3 separate regions of the Homo sapiens genome follow, and all the other regions are linked to region 3. The links come from fine-mapping of genetic effects on gene expression. A gene starts in region 3. Each other region holds a variant in brackets. All regions are shown on one strand. Distances are between the middles of the regions.

What was found.
Region 1: its variant is fine-mapped to the expression of THEMIS2 in whole blood (TOPMed, PIP above 0.99).
Region 2: its variant is fine-mapped to the expression of THEMIS2 in macrophages (Alasoo 2018, PIP 0.95).

What each region holds. Positions count from the first base shown.
Region 1 is chr1:27,930,098-27,940,865 of GRCh38, reverse strand. SMPDL3B (sphingomyelin phosphodiesterase acid like 3B) reads right to left here and starts at 5,866. Exons shown (of 8, transcript NM_014474.4): 1 at 5,622-5,866. The coding sequence starts at 5,682. RefSeq lists enhancers at 154-448, 5,331-6,232 and a silencer at 5,739-6,004. The variant T/G (reference allele first, on the strand shown) is at 5,777.
Region 2 is chr1:27,893,057-27,902,216 of GRCh38, reverse strand. RPA2 (replication protein A2) reads left to right here. Exons shown (of 9, transcript NM_002946.5): 5 at 4,510-4,584; 6 at 5,096-5,212; 7 at 7,820-7,927; 8 at 8,111-8,205. Among named protein-coding and RNA genes, the nearest start is that of RPA2, 17 kb to the left of the region's middle. The variant T/AT (reference allele first, on the strand shown) is at 4,904.
Region 3 is chr1:27,867,864-27,878,631 of GRCh38, reverse strand. It overlaps THEMIS2 (thymocyte selection associated family member 2), which reads right to left and starts at 6,088. Exons shown (of 6, transcript NM_001105556.3): 1 at 5,967-6,088; 2 at 1,904-2,044. The coding sequence starts at 6,060. RefSeq lists a silencer at 5,971-6,240 and an enhancer at 8,914-8,963.

The sequences.
Region 1 (10,768 bases), 62 kb before region 3:
GAGGTGTGGGCGCCTGGGTACTTTAATGCTTTACCCTTTAGACCAGAACTTCTCAAATGTTACTGTTCAGATGCTTCACTGGGGATCTTGTTAAAGTTAAGAGGCTTTCTACATTCGCACTGCTTGGACCTTTTACAGTAAGACAGTATTCATCTATAACTTGAGTTTTATAGAAAGGTACACCAATCTCAGCTATCATTATTATTCATTTATTACTGAGAAGATAAATAAATTTGGTATTGAGTACAGTGAGTAGCTGAGGCCACAGACCTGGGAGGGAGTCCTACTGCACCACCCCATAGCTGTGTGAACAGCGGAACCTTCCCCTGGGCCCGTTTCCTCCTCTGTAAAATCAAGATAACAGCGCCCCCTACCCCTTGGGGCCCTCGTGAGAATTAAAATGAGAAATGTGAGATGATTTCATAAATGGGAAGCAGTGGTTACTCCACATTTGGTTCCTGGGGGGTTCTACAAGGCCCCCTCTCACCATGAGAGACAGGACAAGGTGGGGAGTGGCCACGTTCTACCCAGCCAGCCCCAGCGTGTCCTTGGCTACTGTCCACAGGTAAAGTGCAGGGGCAGGGCAGGCAGGACATCTGAAGGGAAACAAGATGAAGATAGAGCCTGTCTGCCCCAGATGACCATCTCTAAGAGGAGGACTGGTGGGCACAGCGCGTCCCTGGGCAGGCAAAAAGTGTCCTGGCCCGCCTCCTCCTTCACCAAAGGGGATCACCAGGCCTTTATGCTCACTAGGGACAACAGACATAGGGCCCAAGGCCTCATAGCTCTGCAAGGCCCACAGAAATATCTGAGACTTGGAAAAAAATGCATTGACTCTAAAAGTGCAGGAAAGACAAAAATTACAAATATCAAGTAAGTCATCAAAATCAACAATTCATTTCAAAAGCAATATTAAAAATCTCATGGGCCACATGCATTGGCTCACACCGGTAATCCCAGTGCTTTGGGAGGCCAAAGTGGGAGGATCACTTGAGGCCAGGAGTTCAAAACCGTGCCTCTACAAAAACAAACAAACAAACAAACAAACAAAAACAAACAAACAAAAACCCAGGCTGGAGTGCAGCAGTGTGATCCTGGGTCACTGCAGCCTCAACCTCCTGGGCTCAACTGATTCTCCCACCTTAGTCCCCCAAGTAGCTGGGACTACAGGCACGTGCCACCAGGCCTGGCAAATTTTCTTGTACTTTTTTGTAGAGGTGGGGTTTGCCATGTTGCCCAGTCTGGTCTCAAATTCCTGAGCTCAAGTGATCTGCCTGCCTCGGCCTCCCAAAGTGCTAGGATTACAGGTATGAGCCACCACACTAGGAATGCAGGTATATGCCACCACACTCAGCTACTTTTTAAAAAGAAATTTAATTTCTCCGTACTTGGGAGGCTGAGGCAGGAGGATCCCTAAAGTCCAGGAGTTTGAGGTTACCTTGAGCTATGATTGCAGCACCGCACTCCAGCCTGAGCAACAGATAGAGACCCTGTCTCCAAAAAAGAAAAATAAGATAAAAAAATTAAAATCATACATGATATGGGATCTTTTTAGTATGATTTGTGATAGGGGTGGGGAGAACTCCCATAGTCATAGTCATTTATAAAACCTAAGTTCTTAAAATGGCTAGAAGGTGAGTTCCCTTATGGTTGGAGACAGGGGGGCAGGAAGGCATCTGCCATTCATTTAGCACCTACTGAATGCCAGACACTGTGCCACACACTCTATCCATGCAGCCTCATGACAACATTATGAAATGCATCCTAAGATGTACTCATTTTACAGATGAGGAAACTGAGCGAGTGAGCGGCAGACCGGGGATGCCGAGCACGTCAGAATGGAAATGATCACAGTGCACTATATTCTGCCACCACCTACCAGCATGGCCTTGGAGATATATACAGGTTTTCCTTGACTTACAATGGGGCTACGTCCCCCAAAATTGAAAATATCATAAGTCAAAAATGCATTCAACACACCCAACCTACCAAAGGGCATCGTAGCTTAGCCCAGTCTACCTTAAAGGAGCTCAGAACACTTACATTAGCCTACAGTTGGGCAAAATCATCTGATGCAGACCTATTTTATAATTAAGTGTTGAATGTCTCTTGCAATGTATTAAATACTGAATTGAAAGTGAAACACAGAGTGGTTGTATGGCTTCTCGAAGTGTGGTTTCTAATGAATGCCTAAGGCTTTCGCCCCATCATACAGCTTAGTGGAATCTTCGTAAGTCAGGGACCATCTGTGTGTATGCCTCCTTAAACTTTTACAACATTTTACAATGTACCTGGCATGATCTCACTTAAGGCCATCACATTTAATCTCTCCTCTGCTAACATCCCTATTTTATAAACAGTAAAATAAAGGTTGCAGGTCACACAGGTATTCAAAGGCAGGACCACAGGTAGGACCTAAGTTTTCTGGCTTCAGGCAGTAAGTTATTTCTGCAAGGACATGCATGAAACCTGCAATCAGGGACATCTTATTTTGAATCCTGGCTCTTCCATACAGGCAGTGGCAACTTAAGCAAGGGATTTTCAGAGCTGAGCCTTAGTTTCCTCATCTATAAAATGAGGATTAGAATGCACCCAGCAGAGGGATGCTTGTGATGCAGAGCAGGTGAGCCCCAAAGTGGAGCTTAGCCCATGAGGGTTCTTGGCTTTGCCCAGGAAAAAATTCAAGGGCAAGCTTGAGGTTGAAGCAAACAGCTTTGGTGAACAGGTGATGTACAGCTCCATGACTGCTCCTGCAGAGCAGGGCTACCCCAGAGGCAGAGAGTAGCAGCTCAGGGCAGTTTTGCAGTCACATTTATACCCACTTTTAATTGCCTGGAGATTAAGGGGCATTTATGCAGAAATTTCTAGGGAAGGGGTAGTAACTTTTAAATCATTGGGTTACTGCCATAGAAGGGGCAGTAACTCCTGGGTGTTGCCATTGCAAAGGTAAATTGACATGCCACACTGCTGGGTGTGTTTGAAAACTGCTTTTGCCCAGGCCGTATTTTAGCTAGTCCTCAATCTGGTCTGGTGTCAAAGCCCTGCCTCTGGAGTCCAGTCCCACCTCCTGCCTCAGTTGTGCAGGTAAAAGAGTTCTCTTATACAGAGCACCTGGCTGTGGGGTGAGCAAGGCAGCCTTAGGACTCATTCCCTGGGCCACACTGCCCCTCAGCCTCCGTTTCCTCAAGTATAAGATGAAAGTACTGAACAGAGGTTCCCTGAAGGCCCTCCTAGTCTGACTCCTGTGATTCAGTGGCTTTTGTCTGTTATTGCCTATAACCCACACCACACAATGGTCTCAGTCTCTATTTCAGTCCTTTGCTATTAAGGCTAGCATTAGCCCCAAAACACAATTGTAATTCATCCTTTGTAAATGGAGGCCCTCCAAAACCCATGGAGTTCATTTGTTAAAACCTACATTTACGGACCACCTACAGTGAATACCCTCTGTTCACAATAGCTCCAGAGGTAGGTGTTACCATTCCTGCCCTGGTCCTGCTCCCTCAGCCCTGGGCTGGCCTTCCAGGGAGTGTTTTCCTACCAAGCTAACCCACAGGGGAAGAACCTGTCTGCTTCTCTGCAGTTAGAAGCTGAGGAAGGAGCGAAATGTTACACAGGACATGTGTAGGAGGAGAAGGAGCCAGCAAGTTGGCATCCACCCAAGCTCCTGGCTAAGGAAAGTGGAGGCAGAAATCCCACAGTTTAATGCAAAGCAGGGATGATGCTGTCTGATCCCCTGTCTCAGAATCCACCTGTGCTTCAGGAAGACACCTGGAGTTGGAAAAACCTTACAGGTGCTGCGGAATTCCTTTTTTTGTTGTTGTTTGTTTGTTTGTTTGTTTTTTGAGACGGAGCCTCACTCTGTCGCCCAGGCTGGAGTGCAGTGGTGCAATCTCGGCTCACTGCAAGCTCCACCTCCCGGGTTTACCCCATTCTCCTGCTTCAGCCTCCCAAGTAGCTGGGACGACAGGTGCTCATCACCACGCCTGGCTAATTTTTTGTACTTTTAGTAGAGTATTTTTAGTTTCACCGTATTAGCCAGGATTGTCTCAATCTCCTGACCTCGTGATCCGCCCGCCTCGGCCTCCCAAAGTGCTGGGATTACAGGCGTGAGCCACCGCATCCGGCCCGGAATTCCTTTTAAATTTACTTTAAAAGGAATACATTCCAGCAAGTTTGGAGAAAAGAGAAAAAAATAGTACCTCTAAACCCCACCATCCCAAGAGGACATGAAGCATAGTACAGCCAGGCACAGGCTTTGTCCTGCCATTTCCCAGCTGGGAGATCTTCAGCAAGTGCAATGTCCCCTCTGAGACTCATTTGCCTCATCTGCAAAATGGGTATAATGATATTAGCACCTACTTCAGAGGGGCTATAAAGAGAATTTTTTTCTTTCATTTTCTTTTTTTTTTTTGAGATGGTCTCATTCCCGTCACCCAGGCTGGGGTGCAGTGGCACAATCACAGCTCACTGCAGCCTCAACCTCCCAGGCTCAGGTAATTCTCCCAGCTGAGTCTCCCAAGTAGCTGGCACTACAGGCACCCACTACCACACCCAGCTAATTTTTGGTATTTTTAGTAGAGTCAGGGTTTTGCTATGTTGCCCAGGCTGGTCTCAAACTCCTGGACTCAAGCAATCCACCCTCCTCAGCCTCCCAAAGTGCTGGGATTACAGATGTTAGCCACTGCGTCTGGCCTCAAGGGTCCTTTTAAACATACAGAAGTCAGAATAGATTACACCTGTGCCTAGAACCCTCCAATGACATCCCATTTCACCCTGAGCAAAAGCCTGCGTCCTTCCTATCTACAGGCACGTGGAAAGAAAAATGTCTGAGTCCTCAAGAGAGTCTTCGAGGCTATCCATGATTTGGCACCTGCCCCACCCCACCATCTGCCAACCTCACCCCCACTTGTCCTGCCCACCCTGCTTCAGCCACGCGGGCTTCCTTGCTGTTCCTCATGCACATCTCCTGTGTGTCCACCTCAGACCCCGTGCACTGTCCTCTCTTCCTGTAATGTTCTGGACACCCATGTGGCTCCCCCACTCACTGCCTCAAGGCTCCACTTGAGTGTCACCTGATTTGACAGCTCTTCTCTGGACGTCTTGTAAGTACCCCCTCCCCACAACCCGCCTTCCCTGTTCTACTTTATTTTCCCCATAACACTTATCATCTCCTCCAATGCTGCGTACTTTACTTGTTCGTGTGGTTTGTTTTTTTCTCCCCAGATGAAGGAATTCTTCATTGAGACGGGGACTTTCTTTTCTTCTCTGATATATCCCTGGCTCCTAGAATAACGTATGGTACAGGAAAGGACCTCATTTGTTGAATGAGTCCACGAATCTTTCCTGCCACCTCCTACCTCTACTAATTAGCTAGCTCTCACGTACCCAGACCTCTTCGCAATGTCGGTGTCCCTCCCTGGCCAGCTGGCGCCTCCACTTAAAATCTTCAGCCTCAAACAGCACTTGCTAAGGCCCACTAGCTCTCCCCACCTGCCTCCCTGCCTAGCTCCTGCCTTGCTATCTTTAGAAGCACCTTCAAGCTGGCTGCGAGCAGCTTCCCGCAGCCCCAGAGTTCACAGTACAAAACAAAGGCATAGCAGACATTCCCAGTGCTGTACCTGGTTCAGCCCTGGCACCTCCCCAGTTAGCCAGGAAAATCAGCCAGGCGAGCAGCCTCATCCTCGGGGCTCACTTCCCCAGAGCCGTGGGATTCTCAGGCACTGTTGTTGTTCTCACCACAGGCTTCCTAAGTAGTTTTCTGTGGCCACGTGCC[T/G]GAGCAGAACTCCTTGTCCTGTTACAGGTGTTCCAAGTCCTCCAAGGCGTCTGGATCCTCTGGCTCTTCCTCCTTTGCCCAGCAGGGTATGATCTGGGCTGGCCCGAGGAGGCAGGCATACCGGACCCTTAAGTGGAAGCCACACCTCTCCTGCCAGTGCAGCCCCTGCCCCCAAGAGGGAGGGGCAAACAACAGAATTGCCGGTCAGCACATCAGGTGTATTGGCAAGCCCCGGAAAGGGGGATCTAATTCAGACTGAGGAATGTGAGAGGGCTTCTAGGAGGGGGTGACACGTTTAATCCTTTCTTAACATTGTATTATGGAAACAGTCAAACAGAAACAGGAGAGAGAATGGTGTAATGAACCCCCAAGTACCTTCCTCCAGCTTCAGTAATTATGAACTTATGGCCACTCTTATTTCATCTATACTCACTTTTGATTATTTTATGTATTTAAACAACTTTTTTTTTTTTTTGAGACGGAGTCTCATTCTGTCACCCAGGCTGTAGTGCAGTGGCACCATCTCAGCTCACTGCAAGCTCTGCCTCCCGGATTCACACCATTCTCCTGCCTCAGCCTCCCGAGTAGCTGGGACTACAGGCGCCCGCCACCACGCCCGGCTATTTTTTTGTATTTTTAGTAGAGACGGGGTTTCACTGTGTTAGCCAGGATGGTCTCGATCTCCTGACCTTGTGATCCACCCGTCTCGGCCTCCCAAAGTGCTGGGATTACAGGCATGAGCCACCGCGCCCGGCCCTATTTAAACAACTTTTAAAATTTTTTATTATTTTAACTTTTATTTATTTATGTATTTTTTTAGAGAAGTGTCTCAGGCTGGGTGCAGTGGCTCATGTCTGTAATCCCAGCACTTTGGTAGGCTAAGGCAGGAGGATCGCTTGAGCCCAGGAGTTTGAGGCCATCCTGAGCAACATAGTGAAACACCATCTCTACAAAAAATAAAAAAATTAGCTGGGCATGGTAATACATGTCTATAGTCCAGCTACTTGGGAGGCTGAGGCAGGAGGATCCCTTGAGCCTGGGAGGTAGAAGTTGCAGTAAGCCAAGATTGCATCATTGCATTCCAGCCTGGGTGATAGAGCAAGACTCTGTCTCAAAAAAAAAAAAAAAAAAAAAAAAGAAGGGGGTTGTCTCACTCTGCCACCCAGGCTAGAGTGCAGTGGCAAGATAATAATAGCTCACTGCAGCCTCGAGCTCCTGGACTCAAGCTATCTTCCTATCTTCCTGCTTCAACCTCTGGAATAGCTGGAACTATAGGCACTCGCTACCTCACCTGGCTTTTTTTTTTTTTTTTTTTAGAAACAGCATCTCACTACATTACTCAGGCTGGTCCCAAACTCCTGGCTTCAAGTGATCCTCCCACCTCAGCCTCCCAAAGCACTGGGCTGACAGGTGTGAGCTATCATACCTGGCCCTCACTGTATGATGTTAAATTCCAGTGATCATATCATCTTGAACGTAAACAGTATTTATCTCTAAAAGGTAAGGATTCTCTTTTTCTTTCTTTCTTTTTTTTTTTTTTTTTGAGATGGAGTTTCACTCTTGTTGCCCAGGCTGGAGTGCAATGGCAGGATCTCGGCTCACCGCAAAATCGGCCTCCCGGGTTCAAGTGATTATCCTGTCTCTGCCTCCCGAGTAGCTGGTATTACAGGCATGCGCCACCACACCTGGCTAATTTTGTATTTTTAGTAGAGATGGGGTTTCTCCATATTGGTCAGGCTGGTCTCAAACTCCCAACCTCAGGTGATCTGCCCAACTTGGCCTCCCAAAGTGCTGGGATTACAGGCGTGAGCCACTGCACCCGGCTAGGACTCTCTTTTTCTAACACATTATCAGATCTAAAAAAAAAAATAGTAATTCCACCAGGCGTGGTGGCTCACACCTGTAATCCCAGCTACTTGGGAGGCTGAGGCAGGAGAATCACTTGAACCCGGGAGGCGGAGCTTGCAGTGAGCCGAGATAGTGCCACTGCACTCTAGCCTGGGCGACAGAGCGAGACTCCACCTCAAAAAAAAAAAGAAAGAAAAAGAAAAACAGTAATTCCTTACTTCCACCAGGCAGATATGTGGTCAGTTTCCCTGATGTCACCAAATTTCCCTGATGTCTCTTTTTTTTTTTTTTTTTTTTTACAGCGGGTTCTTTCAAATCAGGGTCCAAACAAGGTCCACACATTGCATTTGGTAGATGTGTCTCTTAAGTCTCCCTTAATTTGTAGCTCTCCTGCCCTCTCCCCATTTTTTCCTTGTTCTTTGTCCTGTGAATTTCCCACATTCTGGAGGATTTGGCTGATTCCTTTCTGGTGGTGTCATTTAACATATTCCTCTGTCCCCCATATTTCCTGTAAACTGATAGTTACAGCCAAGGGTTTGATGACATTCAGGTTTGACTTTTGGGGAAGAAGACTTCTCAGGTGGTCTTGGGTCTTTCCTGTTGTTTTGCATGGCAAAGCACGTAAGATATGGTTGTCCCACCAGCTTAACCTTAATTTACAAGTAGGAGTTAGCAGGAAAAGGAGAAAGCTGGGGAGGAGGGTATCCCAGGCAGAAGGAGCTGAATCATCCCAGAGAGCTGAGTTGGGTGATATTGGGCTTGGGGTGCTAAGCCTGGGGAAGCAGGCAGGAGCCAGGTTGTGCTCAGCTGTTTGAGCTGAGAGCTGTGGGGAGCTATGGCAGAGACACAACCTAATTTGCATTTTAGAAAGATGCACTGGCTCTGTGGAAGATGGATTTTTGGGGAAACCAGCAAGCAAGGAGGCTAAGGCAGGGAAGTTGTCATAGTCCTTTCTGTGCTGTTATAACAGAATACCTGAGACTGAGTATTTAATAAAGAGCAGAAGTGTATTGGCTCACAGTTCTGCAGGCTGGAAAGTGTAAGATCAAGGCACCAGCAGGCTGGGTGTCTGGTAAGGCCATTCGCTTCTTCCAAGATGATGCCTTGCATGCTGCATCCTCTGGAGAGGAGAAAGGCTGAGTCCTCACATGGCATGTCTTGGCAAAGGGCCAAGACAAAAGAAGACCAAACTTGCCCTTTTGTAACAGCATTACTCCCACTCATGAGAGTGGAGCCCTGATGGCCCAATCACCTTCTAAAGGTCCAACCTCCCAATACCTCCATAATGGTAACCAATTATAACACCAGCTTTAGAGCGAACAAGCATTTAAACCATAGCAGAAGTCTTGGTGAAAAGCTGTAAGGGGCTACGCTTAGGAACTGGTAACTAGTAGTAGGGAGGAACTGAAGAGGCTGTGGCTGGGTAATTGGTTGAGTAGTTCCTGTTCTAACTGTATTTTTTTTTTTTTTTTTTTTGAGACGGAGTCTGGCTCTGTCCCCCAGGCTGGAGTGCAGTGGTGCCATCTCGGCTCACTGCAAGCTCCGCCTCCCGGGTTCACGCCATTCTCCTGCCTCAGCCTCCCGAGTAGCTGGGACTACAGGTGCCCGCCACCAAGCCCGGCTAATTTTTTTGTATTTTTAGTAGAGACAGGGTTTCACCATGTTGGCCAGGATGGTCTCGAACTCCTGACCCCATGATCCGCCCGCCTCGGCCTCCCAAAGTACTAGGATTACAGGCTTGAGCCACCACGCCTGGCCTCTAACTGTATTTTTAAACCCCATTCTAAGTAGGTAGCAAAGATCCCTTCCCTTGGAGGAGGATGTGGCAGAGTAGAAAGCCACAGCTTCTTGGAGACAGCTACCTCCAGGGTGTGTCCTCTGACCTCCTAGAGGGGGTAGTGAAAGGAGGGAGGGAACAGTCATAAGAGAGGGGAGACTGGCATAGCCAGGGCAGCAAACAGACGTTGCTGGATCTTAAGAGTTCAGGTTGCCCCTGGAAGGTAGCAGATTCTCAGACAGGAAGTCCTTGGACATTTACTTGGGTTCAATAAATATTGGATGTCTAGAAAGTGGTGAACAGGCTGGGCGCGGTGGCTCACACCTGTAATCCCAGCACTTTGGGAGGCCGAGGCAGGCAGATCACCTGAGGTCAGGAGTTCAAGACCAGCCTGGCCAACATGGTGAAACCCCATCTCTACTAAAATTACAAAAATTATCTGGATGTGGTGGCAGATGCCTGTAATCCCAGCTACTCGGGAGGCTGAGGCAGGAGACTTGCTTGAGCCCGGGAGGTGGAGGTTGCAGTTAGCTGAGACCACGCTATTGCACTCCAGCCTGGGCAACAAGAGCAAACTCCGTCTGAAAAAGAAAAGAAAAAAAAGACAGTGGTGAACAATGCAACAATGCAAAGCCTCTGCCTTCACAGGGCTTACATTCAGCTGAAAACATGGGCATTGCACAAATGAATCAACCACAAGGCTCCTGGCCTAGCTAAGTCCCTGGGGTCAGAGGTGCAGCAGAATTTCCAGCCCCTAGGAACTGTGTAGCCTTAGCCGATGAGTATATTATGTCCACAAACAACTACAGACTAAAGCCCCATTTCTGTTTAGGGCCTAGGTCACCCCAAGGAAATGAGGGGCATCAAAATAATCACTGAGACTGAATCTTCTGCCAGTCCCGAGGGAAGAAAGCTCAGAGACCCACTGCTATTGATTTAATGAAAATAAAGCCGTGTGACTTTTCTTGCCCCTGAGCCTGTGGCCTGATTTATAATCTAGGGCATGTCGAGGTATGCGTGGAAGGTAACCTATGGGACTGGTGGGGAAGGAGGGCAGGCAAGGAGTCTAGGGCAGCCAGTGCTCCCAGGGCTGAGCAGGCAGTTGGCAATGGTTACACCTGAAATTGGAACAAGGGAGAGAGTTCTGGGAGGGCACAGGAGCTCCTCATAAGCCCATCTGAGGGGTGCTGGAGTCTTACTCAGCTTTTGACTGCATGCAGGGCTTCTTTTCTTTTTTTTTTTTTCTGAGACAGGGTCTTGCTCTGTCACCCAGGCTGGAGTGCAGTGGCACTATCATGGCTCATTGCAGCCCTGAACTCCCAGGCTTAAGCAATCCTCTCACCTCAGCCTCTCAGGTATCTGGGACT
Region 2 (9,160 bases), 24 kb before region 3:
TATTCGGGAGGCTGAGGCAGGAGAATTGCTTGAGCCTGGGAGATGGAGGTTGCAGTGAGTCAAGATTGCGTCACTGCCCTCTAGCCTGGGCATCAGAGCAATATTCCATCTCAGAAAAAAATAGTCTTTTCAGTGAAAATTTTGTCATTTTTTTATGTGTATTTCTTTGGTTTTAGCCATATATATGTATTTTTTTTTTTACTATGTTTAATGTCAATTTGTGGGGTTTTTGTAAATTTTCTCTTTGATTCCCCTTCCCCTAACAGTGTTTTTGTTTGCAAGAACTTGAAAATGATTATAGTGACCTCTTATAATGAGGCCAGGCACAGTGGCTCACACCTGTAACTTTAGCACTTCAGGAGACTTAGGCAGGAAGATCACTTGAGGCCAGAATTTCAAGACCAGCCTGGGCAGCATGGGAAGACCCTATCTCAAAAAGAAATAATTTTGAAAAATAAATTGTGCAGTTTTTTCTAGTTTACCTTTCGGAAGCTTCTACTAGTCCCAAAGTTTGTTTTTTTTGTTTGTTTGTTTTAGTTAAAAAATACTTTATGGTGGCTGGGCGCGGTGGCTCACGTCTATAATCCCAGCACTTTGGGAGGCCGAGGCGGGAGGGTCACCTGAGGTCAGGAGTTCAAGACCAGCCTGGCCAATGTGGTGAAGCCCTGTCTACTAAAAATACAAAAATTAGCCAGGTGTGGTTGTGGGCACCTGTAATGCCAGCTACTTGGGAGGCTGAGGCAGGAGAATCGCTTGAACCCAGGAGGTGGAGGTTGCAGTGAGCTGAGATCGCGCCATTGCACTCCAGCCTGGGCAACAGGAGCGAAACTGTCTCTCAAAAAAAGAAGAAAAAAAAAAACTTTATGGCTAACAAATTGTAATAATCAGTTATCCGAACCCTCAGCAATTCATAATGTTTTTGCTAGTGGACATTCTTGCCTCACTGTTGATGGCTGCTGACTGAGGAGGGTGGTAGTTGGCTGAAGGTTGAGCTGGCTGTGGCAATTTCTTGAAATAAGACAACAAAGTTTGCCTGAGTAACTGAGTCTCCTTTTCACATAAAATTTCTCGATATTATATCATGCTGTTTGATAGCATTTTACTTACAGTATAACTTCTTTCAAAATTGGATTCAATCTCAAACCCTGCTACTGCTTTCTCAACTAAACTTATGGAGTAGTCTAAATCCTTTATTGTCGTTTTAACAATGTTCACAGCATCTTCACTAGGAGGAGATTCCATCTCAAGAAACCAGTTTATTTGCTCATCCATGAGAAGCAACTCCTTTGAGAGGCCCAGGCGGCCAGATAGATCATTTGAGGTCAGGAGTTTGAGACCACCCTGGCCAGCATGGTGAAACCTCGTCTCTACTAAAAATAAAAAATTTAGCTGGGCATGGTGGTACATGCCTGTAATCCTGGCTACTCGGGAGGGTGAGGCAGGAGAATCACTTGAACCTGAGAGATGGAGGTTGCAGTGAGCCAAAATTGTGCCACTGCCCTCCAGCCTGGGTAACAGAGTGAGGCTCAGTCTCAAAAAAAAGGAAGCAACTCCTCATCCACTCAAGTTTTACCATAAAGTTACAGCAATTCAGTTATATCTTTAAGCTCCATTTCTAATTCCAGTTCTCCTGCTATTTCCACCACATCTGCTGTTACTTGCCCCACTGAAGGTGGAGGTAGCAGTGAGCCCAGATTGTGCCATTGCACTCCAGCCTGGGTGACAGAGCGAGACCTTATCTCAAAAAAAAAAAAAAAATCTTAAGCAGCCACCCAATATATACTTCAGATTAAAAAAGAGCTGTTGGCCAGGTGCGGTGGCTCATGCGTGTAATCTCAGCACTTTGGGAGACTGAGGCAGGTGGATCACTTGAGGCCAGGAGTTTGACACCAGCCTGGCCAATAAGGTAAAACCCCGTCTCTACTAAAAATGCAAAAACTAGCCGGGCACAGTGGTGCATGCCTGTAATCCCAGCTACTCAGGAGGCTGAGGCAGGAGAATCACTTGAACCCGGGAGGCACAGGCTGCAGTGAGCCGAGATCCCACCATTGTAATCCGTCCTGGATGATAAAACGAGACCTTATCAAAAAACCAAATAAATAAATCTCAGCTGGGTTCGGTGGCTGACGCCTGTAATCCCAACACTTTGGGAGGCGGAGGCGGGTGGATCACCTGAAGTCAGGAGTTCAAGACTAGCCTGGTCAATGTGGCAAAACCCTGTCTATTAAAAATACAAAAGCCGGGCACCGTGGCTCACGCCTGTAATCCCAGCACTTTGGGAGGCCGAGGCGGGCGGATCACGAGGTCAGGAGATCGAGACCATCCTGGTTAACAGGGTGAAACCTTGTCTCTACTAAAAATACAAAAAATTAGCCGGGCGTGGTGGCGGGCGCCTGTAGTCCCAGCTACTAGGGAGGCTGAGGCAGGAGAATGGTGTGAACCCATAAGGCGGAGCTTGCAGTGAGCTGAGATCCCACCACTGCACTCCAGCCTGGGCGACAGAGCGAGACTCTGTCTCAAAAAAAAAGAAAAAAATTGTTCATATTATTTCTATGGTTTCTTTTATTATAATTAAACCTATGATCTACATGGAATATATTTTGATAAAAGGAGTTGAGGTAGAGATCTTTTCTCAAGTGGATTCAAAATGTTGTATATGGGAATACAATTGTTTTGTTTGTGTGGTTTTTTTTTTTTTTTTTTCTTTTTTTTTTTGAGATAGAGTCCTGCTCTGTTGCCCAGCCTGGAGTGCAGTGGCACAGTCTCTCACTGCAACCTCTGCCTCCTGGGTTCAAGTGATTCTCCTGCCTCAGCCTCCCGAGTAGCTGGGACTACAGGCACCCACCACCACACCTGGCTAATCTTTGCATTTTTAGTAGAGACAGGGTTTCCCTGTTAGCCAGGCTGGTCTCGAACTCCTGACCTCGTGATCCGCCCGCCTCAGCCTCCCAAAGAGCTGGGATTACAGGCGTGAGCCACTGTGCCCACCCTTTTTTTTGTATTATTAACAGAGGCAGGGTTTCACCACGTTGGCCAGGCTGGTCTCGAACTCCTAACCTCAAGTGACTTGCTCGCCTTGGCCTCCCAAAATGCTAGGATTACAGGCATGAGTCACTGCACCTGGCCAGAGTTTTTATTTTTAAGCATATATTTTCTAGTTTTTTGTTTGTTTTTAGAGACGAGGTCTCACTATGTTGCCCAGGCTGGTTTCAAACTCCTGAGCTCGAAGGATCCTCCTGCCTTGTCCTCCTAAAGTGCTAGGATAACAGGTGTGAGTCCATATACCCCGATATATTTTCAATTTTTTTTAAAGTAATACATTTTATGTAGTCAGAAAAGAACTTTAAAAATCAGCTAATGGGCCGGACACGATGGCTCAAGCCTGTAATCCCAGCACTTTGGGAGGCCGCGACGGGTGGATCATGAGGTCAGGAGATCGAGACCATCCTGGCCAACATGGGGAAACCCCGTCTCTACTAAAGATACAAAAAAAATACAAAAAAATTAACCAGGTGTGGTGGCAGGCGCCTATAGTCCCAGCTATTTGGGAGGCTGAGGCAGGAGAATCACTTAAACTTGTGAGGCAGAGGTTGCAATGAGCCGAGATCATGCCGCTCCACTCCAGTCTGGGTGACAGAGCAAGACACTTCGTCTCAAAAAAAAAAAAAAAAATCAGCTAATGTATTTTTCTTATAAATAATGTGTGCATATTCTAGGAAACTGATAAGTATTAAAATCGTTTTTAATTATCTTAGTCAACCATTATAAACAGTTTAGTGTGTATTGTCCCAAATGGGAAATCAGCTTTTTTCCATGTATCATGACTTGTTTTTCCAGGCAGTAAATAGAATTCTATGTTATCATTTGCAACAGTGTGGAGTATCCTATTATATAGAAATGTGTACTTTATGTTGGATATTTAGGTTGTTTTAAAATTTTTAATATTCTATACTATGATAAATCTAAATCTTAATGCATGTTCTTAATTACTTCCTTAAATTCCTAAAAGTAGAATTGCTTTGCCAATAAGTATATCCACCAGAAAATTGTGTGCCTGCCGGGCGTGGTGGCGGGCGCCTGTAATCCCAGCTACTGGGGAAGTTGAGGCAGGAGAATTACTCAAACCCTCCCTTGGGAGGCGGAGGTTGCAGCGAGCCAAGATCGTGCCACTGCACTCCAGCCTGGGTGACAGAGCGAGACTCCCTCTCAAAAAAAGAAAAAAGAAAATTGTGTGCCTAAGAGCTTGAACGAGAGTGTCACAATTGTTTGCTTTTTTATGATGTGCTACAGAACTTTGGAACTGATAATTACCTTTAGAGATATTTTTATTCTAATTCCTGGTTTTACAAAATAAGTTGTAAAAGGCAGGGCAAACTACTTAATGCCATTTTAGGATCCTTTAACTCTTCTACTTCGTAACTTTCTCTTTCTATACATAATATAGAAACGTTAAAGAGGCTTTTACCAGCATCACTAAAACTTTAATGACATGTTTGTATTTTATGTTAGGACACCAGCAGTGAAAACACTGTGGTTCCTCCAGAAACATATGTGAAAGTGGCAGGCCACCTGAGATCTTTTCAGGTAAAGTCAGAATAAAATAACAGTTAAAGTGTTTTTGCATGAAGCAGTTTCTAGATTCATGTCATGGCTTTTGGATAGTTAAAATACTTAAGTCTCCCTGTTTAATGGGAAGTTATTTCTTACTCTCTTCAAAAGGAAATAACTTTTCTTTTTTTTTTTTTTAACCTTAACATGAAATTAACAGAATGGTAAAGAAAGAACAGAATCTCCTTCTACAATTGCTATCTGTGGCGTTCATTAGTTGGAGAAAGGAGAACACTAGATTCGGAGTCAGGAGTCTAGATTTTGCTTGGTTATGCAATCTTGGGAAAATTATTAA[T/AT]GTCCCTTAGCTATTAGTTTTAGTTTTTTTTCTCCTCATGTTTGACCATATTTGGAATACCTCTGAGAGTATATAACATTTTTCTCATATTGGTGAAATATTAATATTATAACCAAGGAAAGAGCCACAGTGTTGACCTGAAATTAATGTATGTTCATATTTTATTCACATTTTTTTCCTTCATTTTAATAGAACAAAAAGAGCCTGGTAGCCTTTAAGATCATGCCCCTGGAGGATATGAATGAGTTCACCACACATATTCTGGAAGTGATCAATGCACACATGGTACTAAGCAAAGCCAACAGCCAGGTGAGTAGTCTCGCTTTCCTAGCTTTTTCTCTTCCCTGGAAGAACACAGGCTACTTTTGTGTTCCAGCTTTGATTTCCTTGATATTTTGAAGGCCGAGCCAGAGAAAGACATCACTAAGTCCTCAGAACACTTTCTCCATTAGCTTTGTCATTGTATTTTATTCCAGATGAAACACTCATGTTTCTCTCAGAATTAGGAGTTCCTCTGACTCCACTGGCCTGGACAGCTGAGGCCTGTGACAACCCTCAGGTGTAGACATGTAATTATAGGCTCTTAGCTCTTATATAGCTCTTAGCTCCAGGATTGTCAGTGCATACTCAGAGAGTAGTCCCCTTCAGGACAGCATTTTGCTGTCTTCCTTCCAACTTACTGGCTAAGTAGGAAAAATTATGTATTATTATTTTTTCCCTGAAATTATATTTCTTGGTTCATATTGAAATTTCTCCCTAGTATTTTCCATTGTGTGAATTCACTTTGACAAGTCCATCTAGGACCATGCAAAACTAGAGTTGACTGTAGTATTAGAAAGCCCTCAGGGCAAGGTGTGGTGGTTCATGGCCTGAAATCTCAGCACTTTGGGAGGCTGGTGTGGGGGCATCACTTGAGCCCAGTTCAAGACACCACGCTGGGCAACATAGGGAGACCCTGTCTCTACAAAAAAAATTAAAGAATTAGATGGGCTACTTGGAAGGCTGAGGTTGGGAGATCACTTAAGCCCAGGAGGTCAAGGCTGCATTGAGCTGTGATCGTGCCACTCACTGCAGCCTGGGCAACAGAGCAACCTTGTCTCAAAAAAAAATAAAGAAAAAGAAAAATATTTATTGCGCCTACTTTGATTTGATAGTCCCAATCATTCTAGTCGGCATTCGAGTATAGCAGTGAACACTATATACTTACATTCTTGGGAGAAACAAGTAATAAACAAAAATATATGTATAATTTTAGGTAGTTATATAGGTGCTCTGAAGTAAATAAAACAGGAGAAGAGGCTGATGGAGGGAACAAGAATGGTACAATTTTAGATGAGGAACATTCTAAACCAGAGGGACTAGGATGTGCAAGAGCCAGGAGTGTGGAGTAAGCATGACATCTCTGAAACCAGCAAGGCCAGTGTCTGGAGTGAAGTGAATGACAGGGGAGAGGGAGAGGGTTGTAGGCAAGGAGGCAGGGCCCAGATTATATGGGGCTTTGGAGGCCATGGTAAGGATTACCTTTACTCAAATTTTTAAAATTTTGTTTATTTGGGTTTTTTGTTTTTGTTTTTGTTTTTTTTGAGACAGAGTCTCGCTCTTTCGCCCAGGCTGGAGTGCAGTGGTGCGATCTCGGCTCACTGCAAGCTCCGCCTCCCGGGTTCACGCCATTCTCCTGCCTCAGCCTCCCGAGTAGCTGGGACCACAGGCGCCCACCACCACACCCGGCTGCCACCACACCCGGCTAATTTTTTGTATTTTTAGTAGAGAAGGGGTTTCACCGTGTTAGCCAGGATGATCTCGATCTCCTGACCTCGTGATCTGCCCGTCTCAGCCTCCTTTCAAAGTGCTGGGATTACAGGCATGAGCCACCACGCTTGGCCCTTTTTTTCGAGACAGTGTCTCACTCTGTCACTCAGGCTGGAGTGCAATGGCGTGATCTCGGCTCACTGCAGCCTCCGCCTCTCGGGTTCAAGCAATTCTCCTGCCTCAGCCTCGCCAGTATCTGGGATTACAGGTACGCACCACCATACCCAGCTAATTTTTGTATTTTTAATACAGGCGGGGTTTCACCATGTTGGCATCCGGTTAGCAGTCCGGCTGGCAATGAGGATTTGTGGCCTAGGAGGCGGTCTGGGATGAGATCCTGGGGACACTGTCAGCTTTTTGGGAGACAGATAGAAGAGGCTAATGAGGGATACTGAGAAGGTTCAGTTTGAGAGGCAGATGGAGAACCAGAAGAATGTGGTGTCAAGAAGCCCAGGGAGGAATACATTTCAAGAGGAGTGTGGTCAGCAGTGTCTGCTTCCGAGAGGTCAAGTATTAGGAGGACTGAAAGAGACTTTTGGATAATTGGTTGAAAAGTCTTTGGTGACTTTGGTGAAAACAGTTTCAGAGGTGTACTGGGGGACAACCCAAATATGGTGGGCTGAGGAGTGACTGGGGAGAAAGGAAATGAAAATAGTGATTGCAGAGCATTTTAAGAATTTGGTGGTTAAAAAAAAAGAAAGAAAGAGAGGACGATAGGGACTGTGTCTCCTTTTCTCTGCCTGTGGTGCTTCATGCCTATTGACACTCAGTGAATGCTTGAATGATTGGGCTCCATGGATACCAAAATAGCAGACTCTGGGTAATTTTCTTCTTGCTGCTACTCTTCTCTGGTTCGTCTGACATCACAAACAAAAGGAGCCAAGAGTATCTTTCTCTTTTTGATATTTATGTGCTTCGGGGAGTTACTTTATCTTCCTGTGAAATACTCATTAGATAATAGCTGTCCACTCCAATGTAAGCAGTGTTATAAACTGGGAAACTGTTTATAAATTGTTTTTTGTAAGCTGCTTAACGAGCTATTTTAAGTAGTAAAGACTGTTTAACTTGATGGATTTTCTAATATTGCTAACTTATTTCTTAATTCAGCCCTCAGCAGGGAGAGCACCTATCAGCAATCCAGGAATGAGTGAAGCAGGGAACTTTGGTGGGAATAGCTTCATGCCAGCAAATGGCCTCACTGTGGCCCAAAACCAGGTAACCTCCACCAGAGTGGCTTCAGAAATACAAAACACAGATAGTCTTAAATTTTGTTACTTCCTTAATGAGCTACGACTGTTTAAGTACCTGGTTCATTTCTTTTCTATAAAGGGACTCAGGTTTGCAAAGGGGAGGCTGATCCAAAATAATTGCTAAAATCTTTCTGATTTGAATCTTCAGGTGTTGAATTTGATTAAGGCTTGTCCAAGACCTGAAGGGTTGAACTTTCAGGATCTCAAGAACCAGCTGAAACACATGTCTGTATCCTCAATCAAGTAAGTATTTGATTTTCATGAGCTCAGGCTCTGGCATTGTACCTATTTCACCTCACAAGGGTTTCCTGATAGTGAGAAGTGGGTTTAAAAAGTAAAACTTGGCAGCCGGGCATGGTGGCTCACGCCTGTAATCTCAGCACTTTGGGAGGCCGAGGCAGGTGGATCACCTGAGGTCAGGAGTTCGAGACCAGCCTGGCAAACATGGTGAAAACCCCGTTTCTACTAAAAATACAAAAATTAGCCGGGCATGGTGGCACGCAACTGTAATCCCGGCCACTCCGGAGGCTAAGGCAAGAGAATCGCATGAATCCAGGAGGCGGAGGTTGCAGTGAGCCACCATCACACCACTGCACTCCAGCCTGGGTGACAGAGCGAGATTCCATCTCAAAAAAAAGTAAAAGTTCGCCAGGCATTAGCTCATGCCTGTAGTCCTAGCACTTTGGGAGGCTGAGGTGGGCAGATTGCTTGAACTCAGGAGTTCAAGACCAGCCTGGGCAACGTGGCGAAACGCTTGTCTCTACAAAAACAATAAAAACAAATTAGCCGGGCACAGTGGCGCATGTCTGTAGTCCCAGCTACCCAGGAGGCTGAGGTGGGAGGATCGCTTGAGCCCAGAAAGTCAAGGCTGCAGTGAGCCATCATTGTGCCACTGCACTCCATCCTGGATGACAGAGTGAGACTGTCACACACACAAAAAAAACTTAACTGCAACCCTGTTGGCAGAATGGAAATCGTTCAGCTATGGAAAAATAGGAAAAAGACTATGGGCCAAAATGGTGCTACCCATCACATCACTCATTCAGCAAGCACTAAGGACCACTATATGTGAGGGATATATAATAATTCTGAGCAAAAAGTTGACCTGATTTCATTATGGGATTTAGACTGGAGGAAGGAAGTCCTTAGCTCCTGGTCGTCAGGTGTACAGTCCTGTTGCTGTTACTGTCCCCATTGT
Region 3 (10,768 bases):
CTCAAATGGTTCAGAAAAAACACATCCATATATACACATATAGTAATACATTCGTGTGTGTGTATGTATGGAGAGGGAGAGAAACACATGTAACAAATGTTTAACACTTGACGGGGGAAAGAAAAAAGGAAACCTGAGGCCGTTTTTGGCTGGGCACACTGGCTCACGCCTGTAATGCCAACACTTTGGGAGGCCGAGGCAGGAGGATCACATGAACCCAAGAGTTTGAGTGAGACCAGGCTGGAGAACATAGCAAGACCCTGTCTCTACTAAAAATGAAACAAAAAACCCTCACTGGCTCCTCATTGCCTTCGAAATAAAGAACAAACAGTGTCAGCACACCACATAGCCCCCAGGTGGTGTGGCTCCTGCGGCTCCCCACACAACTTGCCCCTAACCTGGAAGCCACACTTTCCCGCATCTGGCAGGCAGTCACATAACAGCCAGTCCTCAGAGTGTGCCTGCTTTGTACCAGGTGCCCCCTCCCCACTTTTTTTTTTTTTTTTTTTGAGAGACAGAGTCTCTCTCTATTGCACAGGCTGCAACCTCCACCTCCCAGGTTCAAGTGATTCTCATGCCTCAGCCTCCTGAATAGCTGGGATTACAGGTGCCCCCCACCACCCCTAGCTAATTTTTGTATTTTTAGCAGAGATGGGGTTTCACCATGTTGGCCGGGCTGGTCTTGAACTCCTGACCTCAGGTGATCCACCCGCCTCAGCCTCCCAAAGAGCTGGGATCACAGGCATGAGCCACCAGCCACTGCACCCAGCCTGTCCCAGGCCCCCTTCTAAGTGCTGTATACATATCAGCTCATTTCATCCTCATATCAAGCCTAATCGCCCTCATTACAGAAGAGGAAACTGAGGCCCAGGGAGGTCCCAGAGAGGCCCAGAGAGGAACCTGCCTAGCTTGCCCAAGGCCACTGGGATTCAATTCCAGGCCACTGGCTTCAGGGTCCAGGCCATGGCCCACCACACTACATGCCTCTTAAAATAATTGAGCTCTGGCCGGGCATGGTGGCTCATGCCTGTAATCCCAGCACTTTGGGAGGCCAAGGCGGGCAGATCACGAGGTCAGGAGATCGAGATCATCCTGGTTAACACGGTGAAACTTTGTCTCTACTAAAAATACAAAAAAAATTAGCTGGGTGTGGTGGCGGGCGCCTGTAGTCCCAGCTACTCGGGAGGCTGAGGCAGTAGAATGGTGGGAACCCGGGAGGCAGAGCTTGCAGTGAGTCCAGATCACGCCACTGCACTCCAGCTTGGGTGACAGAGCGAGACTCCATCTCCAAAAAGTAAAAATAAAAAAAAATAATAAGAATTGAGCTCCTTGGGGTTTCCTGAGCACCAAATGTGCACATGCTACTCCCTGTGGCTGGGATCTTTCTTCTGGTTCAGATGCCACCTCCTCCAAGAAGCCCTCACAGATCCTGAGGCAGGTTACTGTTGCTCAGACCCCTCTCTAAAGCTTATGACTCCTTTTACTGTTGGCCTCCTCTCACTGTCATCCCAGAAGCTCCCCACTGGAGAGGGTGGCACCTGATTCATCCTGACCCCCATACCCACAGCCCGCCACACGGAGCCTGGCACACATGGGTGTCTGCAGATGTTTGGGGAGTGAATGTGTGAGTGAACTCAGAGACAGGCACCTGGACAGGGCTTGGAACAGAGGCAGGTGTGACCAGAGACTGAGAGGGAGAGGGTGCAACCTCTCTGAGTCCAGGGCATTGCCGACCCTCTGAGGACATCCCCACCCTTGAGGCTGGGTTGTGGTGAATGTGAGGGCCTCGGGAGCAAACCCCGAGGGGAGGGAGTGACTGCTGGACGTGGCAAGCCCACGAGCAGCCTGCGGGTGTGCCAGGAGAGTGCCAGGGCACATGGGGAGGCAGAGGTGCCCACCTTACCCTGGAAGTTGGGGGCGAGCTCCATGGTCTGGCTGGTCTTCGGGTTCTCACAGACCACCTTCTGGAGGCGGACCTGGGTGACCTTGATCAGGTCCCCCGTGGAGAGGCAGCACTCATTCCCAGAGATCTCATAGATGGAGCCTGCGGAGACAAGGACTCCATTTCCCCATTGGACAAGGGCCAAGTGCTGGGCAGCCTGTGCCCTGGTGCCCAACAAGCTCTGCTCTGCCATGCCTTTGCACATGGTGCCTGCTGCCTGGCATGCCCTGCTCTGTCGTTCCTGCCTCATGCCCACAGGTTCAGTCGTCCTCAGCTGTCCTTGCCCCTCCTGGCATCGGTGCACCCCGCTGTGGCACACTTCTCTGGCCTTTTTCACATCCCCGTGCCTCCTCCACTGAGTTCACAGGCAGGGCTGATCCATCTCAACATCACTGCAGCCAGCACAGGGCTTGGCCTCTGAGTATGTGGTAAGTCCACAAATCAGTAAATAACCCAGTGAATCCCCCTCTCTGAGCCTGATTTTGTAGCTGTACACTAAGGGAGTTGGGATTCCCTTAGTGTACAGCTACAAAATCAGGCTCAGAGAGGGGTCAGTGGCTCCCTGGAGATCACCCGGAGCCAGGGCCGGTACCCAGCCCTCCTAGCACCCTGGAAAATAGAGGGGCACTGACAGAGTGAGGCCCAATGGGCAAAGTTCTGCTTTCCTGGTTTAAAGTGTGTAAGTGAGGGTTGGGCGCGGTGGCTCACGCCTGTAATCCCAGCACTTTGGGGGGCCAAGGTGGGTGGATCACGAGATCAGGAGATCGAGACCATCCTGGCTAACACAGGGAAACCCCGACTCTACTAAAAATACAAAAAAAATTAGCCAGGCATGGTGGCGGGCACCTGTAGTTCCAGCTACTCGGGAGGCTGAGGCAGGAGAATGGCGTGAACCCGGGAGGCGGAGCTTGCAGTGAGCCGAGATCACGCCACTTCACTCCAGCCTGGGTGACAGAGTGAGACTCCGTCTCAAAAAAAAAATAATAAATAAAAATAAATTAATTAATTAAAGTGTGTAAGTGGTGTCGAGAACACAGAAGTTGCTCAATAAAGATCTCTCACGCACACACGAGTGCACAGTCTCTCCATCCAGCTAATGGAGGACAACAGACTACGTGGCAGGACCTTGAGGCCACCTGAACCCAGCCCCACCCACAGGGCAGCTCCAACATCAGCCCTGAGAAACTGATGAAAACCTCCCCACGTACTGCCAGGAAAATGCCCACCAGTCATAAACCACAGTCTGTTTACAATGTCAGAGCATGGGCCTTCCAGACTGGTGAGAACAGCAGCTGTGGTACTACAGATACCCGGCACTGTGCCAAGGGCTACTGATGCGTCATTGTGTTTAAGACCCATGACTGCTCTTGCGGAGACAGGCAGTTTCAATTTCCTAAATAATGAAACAGCTGGCCAGGAATGGTGGCTCATGCCTGTAATCCCAGCACTTTGGGAGGCCAAGACAGGGGGATCACCTGAGATCAGGAGTTCGAGATCAGCCTGGCCAACATGGTGAAACCCCGTCTCTACTAAAAATACAAAAATTAGCCCAGTGTGGAGGTTGGCACCTGTAATCCCAGCTACTCAGGAGGCTGAGGCAGGAGAATTGCTTGAACCCAGGAGGTGGAGGTTGCAGTGAGCTGAAATCAGGCTACTGCACTCCAGCCTGGGTGACAGAGGGAGACTCCATCTCAAAAAAAAAAAAGAAGAAGAAGAAAAAGAAACAGCCTCTCAGGGGCTGAGTAGGTTGTACATGATGATCAGGTAATAGGAGGCAGAACTGGAAGTTATGGCTGGGTGCGGTGGCTCACGCTTGTAATCCCAACACTTTGGGAGGCTAAAGTGGGAGGACTGCTTGAGGACAGGAATTCAAGACCAGCCTGGGCAACACAGACCTCGTCCTTTTTTTCGAGACAGAGTCTCACTGTCGCCCAGACTGGAGTGCAGTGGTGCAATCATAGCTCACTGCAACCTCAACCTCCCAGGCTCAAGCAATCCTCCCACCTCAGCCTCCTGAGTTGCTGAGACTACAGGCATGCACCATCACACCTGACTAATTTTTTTATTTTGTGTAGAGACACGGTCTCAGTATGTTACCCAGGTTGGTCTTGAACCCCTGAGTTCAAGTGATCCTCCTGCCTCAGCCTCCCAAAGTGCTGGGATTACAAGCATGAGCCACCACACCCTGCAATTTTTTATTTTAAAATTTTTTGTAGACATGATGTCTCACCATGTTGCCAGGGCTGATCTCGAACTCCTAGGCTCAAGCAATCTTCCCACCTCAGCCTCCCAAAGTGTTGAGATTATAAGCATGAGCTATCACACACAACCTATGTTCTATTAAACAAAAAACAGGGCCTGGTGTGGTGGCTCATGCCTGTAATCCTAACACTTTGGGAGGCCGAGGCAGGCAGATCACTTGAGTCCAGGGGTTTGAGACCGGCCTGGGCAAAATGACAAAACCCCATCTTTACAAAAAATACAAAAATTAGCTGGACGTTGTCCTGGTGCGTGCCTGTGGTCCCAGCCTCTCAGGAAGCTGAGGTGGGAGGATCACTTGAGCCCAGGAGGTCGAGGCCGCAGTGAGCTGTATCGTGCCACTGCACTCCAGCCTGGGCAACAGAGCCAGACTCTGTCTCAAAAAAAAAAAAAAAAACCTAGGTTGAACCCAGGGTGTTTGCCTCCAGAGCCAGTGCTCCTAACCAACCACGCAGCCAGCCCCTTCTGAGTGCCCTGTAGACGCCTGCCCCTATTGGCATGGCCATCTGTCCTCCGCACTCACCCCATCCGCACACCCACACCCTGTCAGGGCCTTCTCTAGTCACCATCACTCTGACTTCCACCATTTCCACCATCCCGCGTCAGGCAGGATGAGGAAACAGGTGTTGTAACACCAGCAGGCAAAGGGTGCTGGGAGGACGAAGACGCTTGGTCCTGGGCTGGGGGAAGAGCAAACAGATCCCAGGCGCCTTCCTGCAGAAAGCCCCTGGAGGTAGAGTCAGAATTTGAACCCAGATCTGCCAGATTCCCAAGCAGACCTGGAGAGACCCACTGCGAGGTGGTGGCCCCCTGCGGGACCCTTCATGAGGGACCTCCTTGGTCTAGGACCCCACTTGGGACCTCAAACACTCTGCTGGAAGCTGCTGCGACAGAGCGTTTTTCTGCAGCCAGGGAACAGGATGGGGCAGGGCCTTCAAGCCTCAGTTCGCTCTCTAAGGAAGGAACCCGCACCCCCACACAGCATCTCTCTCCTCCACCTCCATCTCCCCTACTCGGTGGCCCACGGGTCCTCCCTGCCCACAGAGCAGCACTGGCCACCCATCCACTGTGCTGTCTTACCCTGCCCTCCACTGTCTGTTATTCCCTCACCGCTTGCTCCTTCAGGCAATGACTAGTGACTGTGCGCCTGCTGTGTGCCCATCCCTGTGAACCAGGCCGCTGCGGGCAGACGGCAGATGTACGGGGGCGTGCAAGGAGCAGAGAGCCAGGAAGGCTTCCGGGAGGAAGCGCCATTTAAGCTGAGAACTGAAGAGCTGATCAAATCAAGTACTGCCCATGGTCAAACAGAAGGCCAAGGTGGACGCAGGGACTGAAGGAAGGCAGTGTAGAGGAGGGCCGGGGGAGGAGTGGGAGGACACAGACGGGAAGACTGACCCTGCACTTCAGAATCAAGACGCAGCCACGACCACCAGCGGCCTAATGCTGCGTCCCGGCGCGGTCGGAGCTCTGTCCCATGCGCACCGCGGGGCCACCTAGGAGTGGCCCGGCTGCATCCACCTCCCGCGCCTCAACCCACTGACTTTTCATCACTACCCTGCGGGGCAGGTCAGCGGTCCCCGTTCCACGAAAGCAAAAGCCGAGGTCCAAAGAGGTTGAGTGCGGCCCCAAATCACACAGCTTGGCCAGTGGCAGTGTCGGGATTTGAACCCAGGGGCAGTTTCCCCGGATTGCTAACGTCTTCTCCGGGTCTCTGCCCCCGCCCCACACCAAGGGAGTGCTCGGAGGGGTTCCAGCCCCCGCTCACCCTCGAAGTAGACCCCCGAGCAGACCCGCAGCACGCGCGGGAGGGAGGCGGGGTCCAAGGCGCGCACGAAGTCCTGCAGCGGCACCGGCTCCATGGTCCCCGCGGCTCTCTGGGCTCAGACTGAGGGGCGGGCGGGCGGTCCCCGGGAGCCCTGCAGCCCCGCCCCGCCGATGCCCCGCCCCGCACGCCGAAGCCGCCCCGCCAGCCCGCGGGAGCCCTGCAGCCCCGCCCCGCCGAAGCCCCGCCCCCCGCCCCCTGCAGTACCCTATGGGGAAGGGGCGATGATGAAGATGAAGAAGTCCCAGACGCCCCCTCAGCAGTGCTCCCAGTTAGAAAAAGGGGACGCGGCCCGACTTGTTCTGCGTCTCATAGGAGGGACATGCCTCTGCCCTTTGGGTTTGAGGAGGGAGATGTAGTGTCAGGGCTCCCGAATGTCCCTCCAGGACACTCCATGGTCCTCTATCGGAAACCTCCTGGTGAAGGGGATCTCATTACCTCTCCAGAACTCCCATACTCTTTCGATAATTATTGTCTACGTTGGCCTCGAACTCCTGGACTCAAGTGATCCTCCCACCTCGGCCTCCCAAAGTGCTGGGATCACAGGTGTGATCCACCTGTGAGCCACCACGCCGGGCCTCACCAATTCTAGTTAAAAATTCTTCCTAAGGCTAAAGAGAAATCTGCTTAGAAGCCGGACCAACCACTTATCCTGACCCCACAGGCTCGGGATAAGCCTTTTCCATTTCCCTGTCCCTCAGGAGTCAGACCAACATAGGTTCAAATCCCAGGTCTCCTCTTGCTCGTTGTATGACGTTAGGCAAATCACTTTGATTGTGTGAACCTCAGTTTCTTACTCTCTAAAACAGGGAGAAGAGGGCCGGGCGCAATGGCTCACGCCTATAATCCCAGCACTTTGGGAGGCCGAGGCGGGTGGATCACCTGAGGTCAGGAGTTTGAGACCAGACTAACATGGTGAAAACCCGTTTCTACTAAAAATACAAAAAAACCTAGCCAGACGTGGTGGCACACACCTCTAATCCCAGCTACTCGGGAGGCTGAGGCAGGAGAATCGCTTGAACCTGGGAGGCAGAGGTTGCAGTGAGCCGAGATTGTACCATTGCACTCCAGCTTGGGCAACAAGAGCAAAACTCCGTCTCAAAAAACAAAAACAAAAACAAAAAAACAGGGAGAAGAGGCTGGGTGTGGCCTGTAATCCCAGCACTTTGGGAGACTGAGGCAGGAGGATCACTTGAGACCAGGAGTCCTAGACCACCCTGGGCAAACTAGCAAGACCCTGTCTCTTAAAAAAAAGAATAAAATAAAATAAGGCCAGGCGCGGTGGCTCACGCCTATAATCCTAGCACTTTGGGAGGGTGAGGCGGGCAGATCTCCTGAAGTCAGGAGTTCAAGACCAGCCTGGCCAATATGGCAAAACCCTGTCTCTACTAAAAATACAAAAAAATTACTGGGCACAATGACTCACGCCTGTAATCCCAGTACTTTGGGAGGCCAAGTTGGACAGATCACCTGAGGTCAGGAGTTCGAGACCAGCCTGACCAACAGGGAGAAACCCCGGCTCTACTAAAAATACAAAAGTAGCTGGGCGTGGTGGCACGTGCCTGTAATCCTATCTACTCAGGAGGCTGAGGCAGGAGAATCGCTTGAACCCGGGATGTGGAGTTTGCAGTGAGCCGAAATTGCATCATTACACTCCAGCTTGGGTAACAAGAGCAAAACTCTGTCTCAAAAAAAAAAAAAAATTAGCTGGGTGTGGTGGTGCGTGCCTGTAATCCCAGCTACTCGGGAGGCTGAGGCAGGAGAATCGCTTGAACCCGGGGGGGCAGAGGTTGCAGTGAGCCGAGATCACGCCACTTTACTCCAGCCTGGGTAACAGAGCAAGACTCCATCTCAAAAATAAATAAATAAATAAGTAAATAAATAAAATATCCAGGCATGGTGGCATGCACCTGCACTCTCAGCTACTCAGGAGACTGAGGCAGGAGGGTGGCTTGAGCCTGGGAGGTCGAGACTGCAGTGAGCTATGATCATGCCACTGCACTCCAGCCCCAGCCTAGGCAACAGAGTGAGAACCTGTCTCTAAAAAAATAAAAAAATAATAAAATAGGAGAAAGAATTATATCTCAGCAGATTGTGAGGATTGAATAAGATGATATAGGTATTGTGCAAAATGCCATATTTAGTTTTTTTGTCACTATAAAAGTAACAAAAGACTTTTAATCAAAGATAATAACAGAAGTTTAAAATACAATGAATAAATTCTAACTAAAGAACATTTGATTAATAAAAAGCAGGCATTCTTTACCCACCACCCAAAATACTTACACTAACTACTAATATTTTGTTGTGTTTCTTTCTAGTTTTTTTTTTTTTTTTTTTTTTTTTGAGAGGGGTGGGCGGTCTCATTCTGTCACCCAGGCTGGAGTGCAGTGCTGCACACACAGCTCACTGTAGCCCCCAACCTCCTGGGTCAGGCTTCACAAAAGTGAAGGGTCTTGCCTAAGGTTATGCCAAGTGGAGACACTGGGATTTTAACCCGGCTCTGCTAGGCTCCTCCTGCAGGCCAGAGAAAATGACCGTTCTTCACTTCTTTCCCAGGTGCTTAAGCAGATTGTGGAAGTTTGCTGGATTTCTGCTCAGCCCAGTTATGTCTAGAATTTCAGTAGAGGATGGGCTTTGGAGATAGACAGAGCTGGGCTCAAACCCTGGCTCCACTACTTCTTAGCTGTGTGACCTTGGGCAAGTCCCATACCCTCTCTGAGTCTCAGTCTCCTCTCCCTCTTTACAACCAAGGCTGGCAGGAGACAGGTGTTGGTAAAAATGTTAGTGTAACCCAGGCACATGGGGACATGCCCAGTACCCCATATCTACAATCATTACATGATATTGTTCTTTCCCAAGACCTCCTGTGCCTCTGACAAGAGTTCTCATCTTCTTTATTTCTCCCAACACTCTGCATTCTATTTGAGGAAATAAGACACTCAATGGGAACCTGACTTCCTTGCGGTTGCCCGTGTAATGGAGGAACTAAAATCTGAACCGAACCTGCAGGTGGTCACGGCCCAAGCCCTTTTCACTTCCCCAGGTTGGGAGCACCAGCCTGGGGATCTGTCCTTGGCTCCTCAAGAGCTGAATGGGGCAGAGAAAGAAGCTCAGATTCCCACAGTAGGACAGGGGCAGAAAGGAAGTCCCCCCGCCCCCACCAGCTGTGAGGAGGATGCCTCCAGCCACCGGGAACAGAAGTTCCTCATTTCATCAACCCATCTCTGTCAGCTTTTGGACTCTGAAGGTGGATGGCTCAGGACCTCCTTTGGACAGTGCAGGAGGCAGCTGGCCACAGCGGCAGGGTGACAGGATGGGGTCAGACCCGTGCCTGCTGTGTGGCACCACACACTCCGGTATATGATGTGTCACGTGACTTGGTGTTTTTCAGCAACTTGCCAGGCAGGATGTGGGGTCCTCCCTCTCCTCCCGTGTTTCCTCCCACTGTAGAGGAAGGTAAGGGCCTAACACTGACACAGCACTGGGCAGCGGTTGTTAAGGTGTCCTGCCATCCACTTCAACACCCACCGGCGTGGCCCACTCACCCAAAGCGGTGGGAAACATCCCAGCAGCCAGCAGGGTCAAGGGCAGTGTGGCAGGGACAGGGAGAATGCCTGTGCTCTGAGGGCGAGGGATGGAGGCCCAGCACATCCCTGAGCCTGCAGAAGGGCTGGAAGCCCTCCGCATGCTGGCTGGAAGTTACCAGTGTCCCTACCGTGTGATGCTGCCAAGCAGTTTGCCACTCAGTGATACTCCAGGCACCCAGGCTGCCCACCAGAGCAGATACACGCCTGGCCTGTGGGTCCCGAAGTTGTCCTCGAGTTGCTCCCTCACTGGGAGAGCAAGATCCACCAGCTGGCCCAATGGCTTCATGGCGCCCTTCCGCAATGACCACAATACAAAGACGGCACCACAGCAGCCCACAGGTCTCCTGCAGAAATGCTCACAGTTCCCAGGCGCGACGGTGGCAAAAGGGCATGTCTTGTCTTGTAACTGTTTTCTGGATTTTCCAGAACACAGTTTGAGTACTTAAAAGAAATTTTTTTCTTCCAGTCTGGAGCCTTGTCTTATTTTTAATTTTTAAATGTTTTTTAGAGACAGGGTCTGGCTATTTTGCCCCCTCTGCCCTTGAATTACTTTCATATTAACAAAAACAACATGAACAGACCCTGCATGGCCCCTCTGAGACAACTGTGGAGATCATGGGGGAGGGGTTCTCCCCCCAGTGCAGGTTTTCACAGGAGTAAAATAGGTCACTTTCGGGAAAAGATGCTCAGCATATCTTTTTTTTTTTTTTTTTGAGATGGAGTCTCGCTCTTGTCACCCAGGCTGGAGTGCACTGGTGTGATCTTGGCTCACTGCAACCTCCGCCTCCTGGGTTCAAGTGATTCTTCTGCCTCAGCCTCTCGAGTAGCTGGGATTACAGACGTGCCCACCACGCCCAGCTAATTTTTTTGTATTTTTACTAGAGACAGGGTTTCGCCATGTTGGGAAGGCTGGTCTCGAACTCCTGACCTCAGGTGATCCACCTGCCTCGGCCTCCCAAAATGCTGGGATTACAGGCGTAAGCCACTGCACCCGGCCAATGCTCAGCATATCTTTAAGGAGGCAGGCGTGTCTGCTTGTAAAGCCTCAGAGGGCTGGCTCATGCTCCTGTGTGGTGGAAAATTAGTTCGACTCCCCTCTTGGCTTTTTTCTTTTGTTTTCTTTTTTTTCGAGATGGAGTTTCACTCTTGTTGCCC